Regions from separate parts of the Homo sapiens genome. Here region 1 is linked to region 2. Evidence: fine-mapped expression QTL. A gene starts in region 2. The other region holds a variant in brackets. All regions are shown on one strand. Distances are between the middles of the regions. Region 1 overlaps LY75-CD302 (LY75-CD302 readthrough). Region 2 holds the start of MARCHF7 (membrane associated ring-CH-type finger 7).

What was found. PIP is the estimated chance that this variant, and not a neighbour inherited with it, causes the effect. A credible set is the group of variants that fine-mapping cannot tell apart.
Region 1: its variant is the best candidate, but not a certain one, in a credible set for the expression of MARCHF7 in lymphoblastoid cells (TwinsUK, PIP 0.70).

What each region holds. Positions count from the first base shown.
Region 1 is chr2:159,816,865-159,822,396 of GRCh38, forward strand. LY75-CD302 (LY75-CD302 readthrough) reads right to left here. Exons shown (of 38, transcript NM_001198760.1): 29 at 2,862-3,056; 30 at 1-168. It overlaps LY75 (lymphocyte antigen 75), which reads right to left. Exons shown (of 35, transcript NM_002349.4): 29 at 2,862-3,056; 30 at 1-168. Among named protein-coding and RNA genes, the nearest start is that of CD302, 21 kb to the left of the region's middle. The variant CT/C (reference allele first, on the strand shown) is at 2,541.
Region 2 is chr2:159,710,417-159,715,416 of GRCh38, forward strand. MARCHF7 (membrane associated ring-CH-type finger 7) reads left to right here and starts at 2,090. Exons shown (of 12, transcript NM_001282805.2): 1 at 2,090-2,190; 2 at 4,141-4,182. It also overlaps a transcript of BAZ2B not described here. RefSeq lists silencers at 1,539-2,048, 2,569-2,688 and enhancers at 1,665-2,331, 2,099-2,378.

The DNA.
Region 1 (5,532 bases), 110 kb after region 2:
GAAAGAGCTGGCCATTTTGGTTGTGAACGCTTGCCAAGTGACCTCCACTTTGAGAACACATGTTTAATGCTTCATACCATGTTACCTTTTTTTGAATAACACTGTAAATACCATCTTCATATGGCATAAACTGTGGCAGTGTAGTATTATATTCTTCTTTGTAGTCAACTATAATAATTAAAAGCACTGGTGATTAAAATTTAAATTATTTCAAATACATCTTTTGGATGAGACAACATGCAATCATTTCAAAAGTTAAATAAAACTGGGTTTCTTATTAATAAGGGAGGTCAAATGTATATTTTATTTTTCTTACTGGTATGACACATATCTTAGGCTCTTAAAGTTCTCTGATTGATATTTTAAAAGGCATAAACATTTTCTTTGATTTAAGAAGCTCATATATTAGTTGGAGACAGAAACAACAATGGCTGAAATGATGGCAAAACTGTTAACCAGTAGGGTATGTGAAATTGGTAGAGATTCATTTGAATGAGAAGAGTCAGGAAGACTACTTGATAAACCAGGTCTCAAGGGTTAGGTGAAATTAAGACTAAAAAGAAATAAGGGAACCAGAAAGTAAGGAAGTGCTTAAAACAAGCACAAACAGCAAAGCCACAATGACGAGGTTATTTCAAGGGACATGGGAGCCAAGTGAAAGAGCTCCCAAGGGCCAAAGCTGGAAAGACTTAAGCAAAATATTACAGAATGCAGTATGTTAGATTATAATCCAAAGTATAAAATAAATAACAATGAACCTATACTAGGTCTAGAGGATTGGGGGAAATCAAGAATAAAAAGAAGGTAAGGAGAAAGTATGGAAGTGCTACAAACAAACAAATAACAAAAAAACTACAATGATGAGGGTATAAATAAATGACTGAATAAATTTAAAAATTGGGGCCAGGTGCAGTGGCTCACGCCTGTAATCCCAGCATTTTGGGAGGCCAAGGCGGGGGGATCACCTGAGGTCAGGAGTTCAAGACCATCCTGGCCAACATGGTGAAACCCCGTCTCTACCAAAAATACAAAAAATTAGCTGGGCATGGTGGGGCGTGCCTGTAATCCCAGGTACTTGGGAGGCTGAGGCAGGAGAATCGCTGGAACCCAGGAGGCAGAGGTTGCAGTGAGCTGAGATGGCGCCACTGCACTCCAGCCTGGGTGACAGAGCAAGACTCCATCTCCAAAAAAATAAATAAATAAATAAAATAATAAAATAAAATAAAAATTGGAGAAAATAGACAAATATCCTGTGCAGAAGAATTTCAAGTAATTTATATCGATACTCCCCTCATAGGAAGGTGGAGGATAACTTTCTACCCTATTAAGTGTGGACTCAACATAGTGACTTCCTTGGAAAGAAGACAGTATGGAAAGGAGGAAAAGAGGTAACTTTGCAGCAGAGAACCTAACAAACACTACCTTGGGCCAGGTGGCCAGTGATAAGTCATATGAATAGTACATGCTGTCCATGTGAAGTGAGAATGCTCCCTCACATCTTTGGTCTTCCCTCAAAAACTTATAACCCCAGTTTAATCATGAGAAAAACATACGCCAACCCAAACTGAGGGACGTTCTACCAAATACATGACCAGTGTTCCTCAAAACTGTCAAGGCCAGCAAAAATAAGAAAAGTCTGAGAAAACAGCCAGCCAAGAGGAGCTTAAGGAGGCAGGAGAACTAAAGGTTAGGTGGGATCCTAGAAAGAAAAAGTATGTTAAATAAAAACTACAGAAATTTGAATAATGTGTGGACTTTAGTTAAAGATAATAATGGATAAATATTGGTTTATTAGTTGTGACAAATGTACCATACTAAAGTAATATGCCAACAGTAGGGGAAATTGATTGTAGGGTAGATGGGAATGCTCTGTACTATCTTTGCAACTTTTCTGTAACTCTAAAGCTATCCTAAAATGAAAAGTTTATTAAAGATGTAAAAAAAATAAAGAAAGAAAGAAATTGGAAAACTTCTTGGCAGAAGGAAAACATAAAGGTGCAAGTATGAGGATGGGCATACACTGTGCCTGGGACAATGAAGAGACCAGCTTGATTGAGAAAAAGATGCTTTGCTGAGCAAGAATGGGGAAAAACAGGGAACTGGGAGAAGGCCTAGAAACTGGGGATAGAGACTAAGTTTCTAAAATGTCTCAAAAGTTTACATGCACTCAAAGTAGGTTAGAATAAGGAATCCCTGGAGGTTGCTGGTGGACACGGTCTTGGGAAGTGACTGCGGCGCTGTAAGTGAGCCAACTAGCCAGCACTCCACCTTTACGGGCTCCCAGTGAGCAGGGAGCTTTGGGCACAGTGGGAGTAATGACAGTTTTAGGGCACAGTGGTAATAATTAACAGTTTTTAAGCTGTGAAAAAATTAAAACTAACATATATTTAAAAATAGATTTATTTAAAGATTAAGCAAGGTGGAGAGACATTCACTTTGCACGGAATGTTAAAACTCGTTCCCCAAACACTTTCTTATTTATATAAACCCTATCCATTTTTCAAACCCCAACCAAGTTTCACCTCTTCTTGAAGCCTTTC[CT/C]TTTTTTTTTGTTATTCCCCTTTCCAATGTATCGGTTTTGACTTCCCCACAATTTAAGCCTGTATCAATTAATCTAAGACCAATTTACATTAAACAATGATAAGGAATTTAATGCTGTCTCCACAACTACATTTTACTCCTTAGGGTCAAAACCTTGACAGCAGGGCCCGTATCTTTTCCTTCCTCGATAACCTCTGTAACACCTCGCACAGGACTGAATACAGAGGAAGCATTTGATTGTATGATTCCCACTGGTGGAACTAATAGCCTTATATTCTTTCCCTGGAGTGAAAGAAAACTCTATATTTTACTATACTTACCCATTTCAATTTTACAAGCAAGAATGCTGTGCTGGTGAAAATAAACTGCTTCTTCAATAACTTTAAAGGTTTGAATATCCCAGAAGCCGTCAGTACTTAAACCAGCCAAAAACTTCTCATTTTTTATAGTTGGTCTTCCTGCTCTCCAATGTGTATATGACAGTGGGGTCTTATCAAACCACATAAGAGACTTATCTAGAGAAGAAACATTTTTTCCTATGCTTAGAGATTAAATCAAGACTTGAATTACACTTATACAGTTAAGATTTCAAACTTGACTAATTTTCTCTTTTCCCAACCTTCTAAAAGGTTGTATGATTATGTATAACCCTTTAAGATATTTTCTGATTATAACAGTAAATCATGCTCATTTTTAATTTGAATATAAATACAAACTATAAATATTGACCTATAATTCCACCATCCTTCAGTAATAACATTTCATTTTTGTCATCAAATATTCTTTTCTTGAAGTCATTATATGAAAAAGATACTTGCACATGCATGTTTATAGCAGCACAATTCACAATAGCAAAAATATGGAACCAGCCCAAATGCCCATCAATCAACAAGTGAACAAAGAAAATGTGGTAATGTGGTATATATGTACCATGGAATACTACTCAGCCATAAAAAGGAATGAAATAATGGCATTCGCAGCAACCTGAATGGAAATGGAGATCATTATTCTAAGTGAAGTAACTCAGGAATGGAAAACCAAACATTGTGTGTTCTCACCAAGTGGGAGCTAAGCTATGAGGATGCAAAGGCATAAAATGATACAATAGACTCTGGGAACTCGGGGGGAAGAGTGGGAGGGGATGAGGGATAAAAGATTACACACTAGGTACAGTGTACACTGCTCGTGTGATGGGTGCACCAAAATCTCAGAAGTCAACACTAAAGAACTTATCTATGTAACCAACCACCACCTGTTCCCCAAAAACCTATTGAAATAAAAAAATATTATTTTCTCTTACATATACGTTTAATTGCATGGAAATGAACATAACTATTTTATTTATTTAAAACATGATTGATAAGTTATAAAAGTCACCACAGAAATCTCTTCTCTGGACATAAACTGTTCACAGTTGTGCATACTTATGGTCAATTAATATTTTTTTTCTTTGAGACACAGTCTCACTCTGTCACCCAGGCTGGAGTGCAGTGGCACGATCTCAGCTCACTGCAACCTCCACCTCCTGGGTTCAAGCAATTCTCTGCCTCAGCCTCCCGAGTAGCAGGGATTACAGGTGCCCACCACCGCGGCTGGCTAACTTTTGTATATTTTAGTAGAGATGGGGTTTCACCCTCTTGGCCAGGCAGGTCTTGAACTCCTGATCTCATAATCCATCCGCCTTGGCCTCCCAAATTGCTGCGATTATAGGCATGAGCCACCGTGCCTGGCCAGTCAATTGATTTTTAAGAAGGATGCCAAGACAATTCAGTGTGGAAAGAATAGTCTTCTAAACTGGATATCCACATGTAAAAAAAAAAAAAAAATGAAGTTGGACCCCTTTCTTTCACCACACACAAAAATTAAAGTAGATCACAGACATAAATATAAGCGCTACAGCTATAAAATCTTTAGAAGAAAACATGGAAGGCCAGGCATGGTGGCTCACCCCTGTAATCACAGCACTTTGGGAGGCTGAGGTGGGCAGATCACCTGAGGTCAGGAGTTCGAGACCAGCCTGACCAACATGGTAAAACCCCATCTCTACTAAAAATACAAAAATTAGCTGGGCGTGGTGGCGGTTGTCTGTAATACCAGGTACTCAGAAGGCTGAGGCTGGAGAACTGCTTGAACCTAGGAGGCAGAGGTAGCAGTGAGCCAAGATCATGCCACTGCACCACTTCAGCTTCGGTGACAAGAGCAAAAGTCTGTCTCAAAAAAAAAAAAAGAAAAGAAAAGAAAGAAAACATAGGAGTAAGTCTTCATAACCCTGGGGTAAGCAAAGCCTTCTTACATATGCACAAATGACAAAAGAAAAACACTTTTGTGATGGATTGCTGGCAAGATGGCCAAATAGGAACAACTCCAGTGTGCAGCTCCAAGCAAGATTGATGCAGAAGGCAGGTGATTTCTGCATTTCCAACTGAGGTACCGGGTTCATCTCAATGGGACTGGTTGGACAGTGGGTGCAGCCCACAGAGGGCGAGCTGAAGCAGGGTGGGGCATTGCCTCACCTGTGAAATGCAAGGGGTCGGGGAATTTTCTCCCCTATCCAAGGGAAGCCATGAGGGACTGAGCCTGAGGAACTCTGGCACAGATAGTGCACTTGTCCCAGGGTCTTTGCAACCTGCAAACGAGGAGATTCCCTCTGGTGCCTACCCCACCAGGGCCCTGGGTTTCAAGGACAAAACTGGGCAGCCATTTGGGCAGACACCAAACTAGCTGCAGGAGTTCTTTTTTCCCCATACCCAAGTGGTGCCTGGAATGCCGGTGAGACAGAACTGTTCACTCCCCTGGAAAGGGGTGCTGAAGCCAGGGAGCCAAGTGGTCTGGCTAGGTGGGTCCCACCCCTATGGAGCCCAGGAAACTAAGATCTACTGGCTTGAAATTCTCGCTGCCAGCATAGCAGCAGTCTGAGATTGACCTGGGACGCTAGAGCTTGGTCGGGGGAGTGGCATCCGCCATTGCTGAGGCTCGAGTAGGCAGTTTTAC
Region 2 (5,000 bases):
CCAGGATGGTCTCGATCTCCTGACCTCGTGATCCACCCACCTTGGCCTCCCAAAGTGCTGGGATTACAGGCATGAGCCACGGCGCCCGGCTGCAAAATGTCTGCAGCATAGCAAAATCTCAATAATTATTTATCACTCATGATAATTACCTGAATACTAAAATCAGAGAGAGTACATTAAAAAGAAACACAACGAACCATTCTTAAATAATAAAAACATATTCATCAGTGGTCTTTATTTACTAGCACCAATAAAAAACTAGAAGCTCTGTTTAGCATAGGAAATTGGTGTCATACTCACTTTATAATATCATCAGTGCTGGGTGGGGACAAAGCCATAATCTGCCAAAATCTGCACCATCCTTGCCAGGTTTGGGAGTTCTGTAGAGTAGTTACCACTGCCAGGTCTGACTGCCATAGCTCAGGAAAAGGGTGCAGTCATTTCTCTTAGCATAATCTTGAGAAGATGTCTAAGAGACCTATGTAATATTAAGTCACAGAAAGAAACAATATTATTGGTGGTTTAGACATGGAATGTAATAGCTAACAATTACGGAATGCTTACTTGTTTCAGGAACTGACGTGTTATCTCATCTAAACAATGCTACAGAGCATGGGTACTGTTATTAACCCCGTTTTACAGGAAACCTAGGTTTAGCAAGGTTAAGGAATTGCTTGAGATAACAAAGGTAGTAAGAGGCAGGGGTGGAATTTGAAGCCATATAGTCTGGTTCTTCAGGGTGTATACATCCGTGTATCTATAACCACAATGCTGCAGGGGCACTCGAACAGGCTGGAAAAGAATTATTTTTCTTTAAAGGGCAAATTAATTTCCTCAAAAGTAATCTCTGTTCACTTTATCCCATACCAGATGCTTATTTTCATTTCATATCCTAAAAGTTAGATTGGCACTTACATGCCAACTTAAAATACCTTTAAGTCTTTAAAATTTATAGTATTTTAGAATTTATCATAGTGAAACATGTACAGTCTGTTAGTCCCCAAGACAATAAAATAAGGATGATAGTGACTGATACTCCATTCCCTTCCGATGTAATGACAAACACGTAGAAACACTGTGTTTCATTTATTGGAATTATTTGGATCCAAAGGATTGCTTTTAATACCTTAACAAAATAGGTCATTAAAAAAAATCAAGTGCCTTTCAGTATTCTTCCAAGTTTCAATAACTGATCTTTTCCATTAAAAAACTTTTGATTCATTATTCCAAATCAACATATCATCTAAATATTTACACATAGTTAGATGTAGCTTTTCCCTAACCTACTCCCTTTTATTTATTAGTACTCATTTACATCTTAGTTTGCCACATTTACAGTTCTTTGAAAGTTTCATCTAATATTCACCAGACCATTCACCTCACAATTTTCCTCCCTCTTTCTAAATAGGTGAATTTGTTTACTGCAAAATCGATGGCTACGCTATTAAAGGTTACTATCACGATTTTAAAAGACATGATCACCATCATTTACCAAGATTCTTACCACAAGGAAATGATCACAAGGTTGGACAAACAGGCTCCAACTCTTAAGGGAAAGGGCTTGCAGTTAGATCACACAGGGCGGGCAGGGAAGCAAGCGGGGAGGGGTAGGTCGGAAAAGGCAGTGCTTGATTCAATTCAACATTCACTGCGCCACTTACCAAGAGCCAGAAAAAGAAAAAAAAAAAAAAAAAAAGCCAACCAGCTGGGCGTTATTTCGAGCACGGGGCCCTGCAGGTGGGCCTGTGGGCGGGGACCCGGCGCCCGGGAGGGAAGGGGCTGGCTCAGAGACTATAGACGGGCGGGGACCGCCCCGGCCCGGGCCTCCAGCGCCCGGCGCCCGCACACTCGCCAGCCCAGCTGCCGGCACGCCGGCCAGCCAGCCGCTGCCGCTTACCAGTGGCGCCTCGCTGACTCCCCGGGGGCAGCTCTTCAACGGTTCCCGCAGTCAGAGCACCACCCCGCGGTGGGGTACCTCCAGCCCGCCCGCAGCTCTCGGTCCCCGCCGCGCCGCCACTCTCGCGAGAAGCCAGGAAGTCCGCGAAGTGGGGGGAGGAGGAGCAGGGAGGGGCACTTAACGGTGGTGGCTGGTTCTGCGCCGGATCCGGGAGAGGGGCGGGCGCCATTGTGCTTCGCTGCCGACTGCATTTCCTCAGTCACGGGCCTAGAACTCCAAGGAGAAAGGCGGCGGTGCGTGTTGCTGCGAGTGGGACGCGCACTGGTCGGTGCCGGCTCAGGAGCCGGGGTAATGAGCTGCGGAGCTAGTTCTTCTCCGTCTTGGGCGCTAGTTCGGGACCAGGCCGCGAGTGGGGGAGGGGAGGAAACGAAGAGGCCTGGGGACGCGGAGGCCGCTTCCTCTCAGGATGAGGTGGAGAAGCTTGGTCCGGGGCCACCGGGGCCAAGGGGCCACAGCGCAGGCCTCCCTTGCCAGGGGCCTTTGGTCGGGTGGTGGAGTTTGTGGCGGGTGCAGGGGACAGATTGTGTGTCTTCCTCAGGGACGTGTGGCGGGTGACGGGAAGAAGCCTGAGCCCTCCTTTGGCGCGGGGCGGCCTCCTCTTGGGCCGTGGGGCGGGGGGTCTTCGGAGCCCTGCGGGCCGCGGGTGTCGCGCGTGAGCTCGCCGGTGAGCGCGGGGCAAAGGCGGGCAGGGCTCCGGCTCGGCCAGCCCGGCCTCGAGTCGAAGTGACTTCGGTAGCCCCTTAGATTCGGCCAAGATTGTCTTATTGGTAACGTCAGTTTTTGAATATCGTGACGCCCTGAGAGTTATTTTTGTGTTGTGGTGAATTGTGGGTTCTGCAACTCGAAGTAGGTGATTGTATTAAAAATGGACCTGTTGGCCTAAGAAGTAAAAATATAGAAGGCGCCGGGAGTAGGAAACTCCCTCATTTTGGTGAAACTGCGTATTGAAGATGTGTGTCCACCCCCTCACCCCAAAATGCTGCACTTAATACTTTTTCTCAAGTACCAAAGTAAATATATTGGGAAAGTCTATCTGGGTAATAAATTCGTCACGACTAATGTTGTTTGTTACTATTAGTTAAATGTGTGAAAACTGAAATTTGGCGAGGTTTTCTCCCCCATTTTGTAGGATTGATTAGCTATTTTTCTGATTACATGTTATTTTAAATCTCCACCTTTCTGTCCAGAACCAAGATGTAGGATTAAAGATGAATTTTCGATTTAAAAATCCAATAGTATACAGTTATTAAGAAGGCACACATGTAGTGTAACTAGATCTTTTACTTGAGGTAGCAAAAAGTTTGTTTGAGAAATGAGGTCAGTATAATATTTTTATTTAACAGCTCTACAGCATTTTGGGAGACAGGACTGGTGCATGAGGCAGTAGCACCAGACTCAGAAGACCTGGGTTTGAGTCTTGATTTTTGCCATAGTTATTTAAGTTCACGAGATTGTCTCAGAAACATGGCAGTTAATTTCTAGAGAGGATTAAATTTGCTGAGGTGGTGTGTGAAGCAGTCACTAGGGGACATAATACTAGTCTTGGTTTTTTTCCAAGTTTAGTGCTGGGTCAGGTGTCTTGAATTAAGAATTCCTACTTATTCAAGTACAAATGATTTCTTTTTTCTGCCACCTGGAAGAGGGCTATTTTCCCAGATAAAGCACGAGGATGCCCAGGTTATGTTCTACATGAAGGTGTCAGGTAACGAACTTGGACACAAAAGTCATCCATGACTCTCATGTAGCCAATTTTTAGTCCGCTCCATACCCACCTTACACAACTCTTTTATCTGCTCTATGTTCAAGAATCGTCTACATTTTGACATTTTATTGTAGGAAAATAATTTTATAATGCAAAATCTGTCAAATATCTTAAAACTTTTTTAGATAATTTGTAATTTGTTGTAGTCAAATTACAAATTATGGAGAGCTTCACATTACAAGAATGAGCTTGACATGGCATCTGCCCTCCACAACTCACTGTTTAGTCATCAGACTAATGTATAAACAACTATTATTATCTTAATATGACTGTACAGTGGTTCTGTGGGAGCATAGGGGAGGGGTGCTTAATCTTGGAAATTTTACAGGATTTATTTATTTATTGCCTGAACTAAGATGTGAAGGCTCACTAGGACTTTGATAAAGAAACTGCAAAGTCATGATATTATGGTTTGTTTTAGGAATTCATGATTTGTTCCTGTAGCTGAAACATACATTGAATGGTAAGTTAGAGCCCGACATAAAAGACTTTCTGTACTGTACTAGAAAATTAGTGTCTGGGTGTGGTGGCTCACTCCTGTAATCCCGTCACTTTGGGAGGCCAAGGTGGGAGGATCGCTTAAGGCTGGGAGTTCAGCCAGGCCACAAAGACCCCATCTCTACGGGCATGGTGGTGCGGGTGTAGTGGTGCGCACTGCTACTACTAGCTACTTGGGCTGCTGAGGCAGAACGATCATTTTGAGCTCACGAGTTGCAGAGACTGCAGTGAGGTATGATAGAGCTCCACTGCACTCCAGCCTGCACCACAGAGTGAGACCCTGTCTCTAAAAAAATAAAAATAAAGTTAGTGCTCTATGCTGCGGAATGGAGAGCTATTGTGTTCCTTAACAAAATAAAAATAATTTTTAGATAATCTTTGCTGATACATCCTTCTGTTACCACAGATAATTAAGTGCCAGTAATAAAGAACAATGGGACATGAATGAATGAAATGCACAGCGTTGCATTAGACTTTACTTTTAAACAACAAATTAACTAATGAAGCTTTTAACTGTTAAATAAGTGAATCAACTGATCACATTAGAATGATTACAATTTAAAAAGAATCGGATTTTGAGTTCCTACTAAGATTACTTGAATTCACCAAAGCAGAATTCAATTGCAGTCAAAAAATTTATCTTAATATACAGCATTTGCTAATCATAGGATGAGCCAAAAAGTCTGAAGTTGGGGAGAATGAAATTATAATTTGAGAGTTTAGGTGGGGGGGGTAATAATTTTGTGTGTGTGAGTGTGTGACAGGGTCTCACTCTGTTTTTTA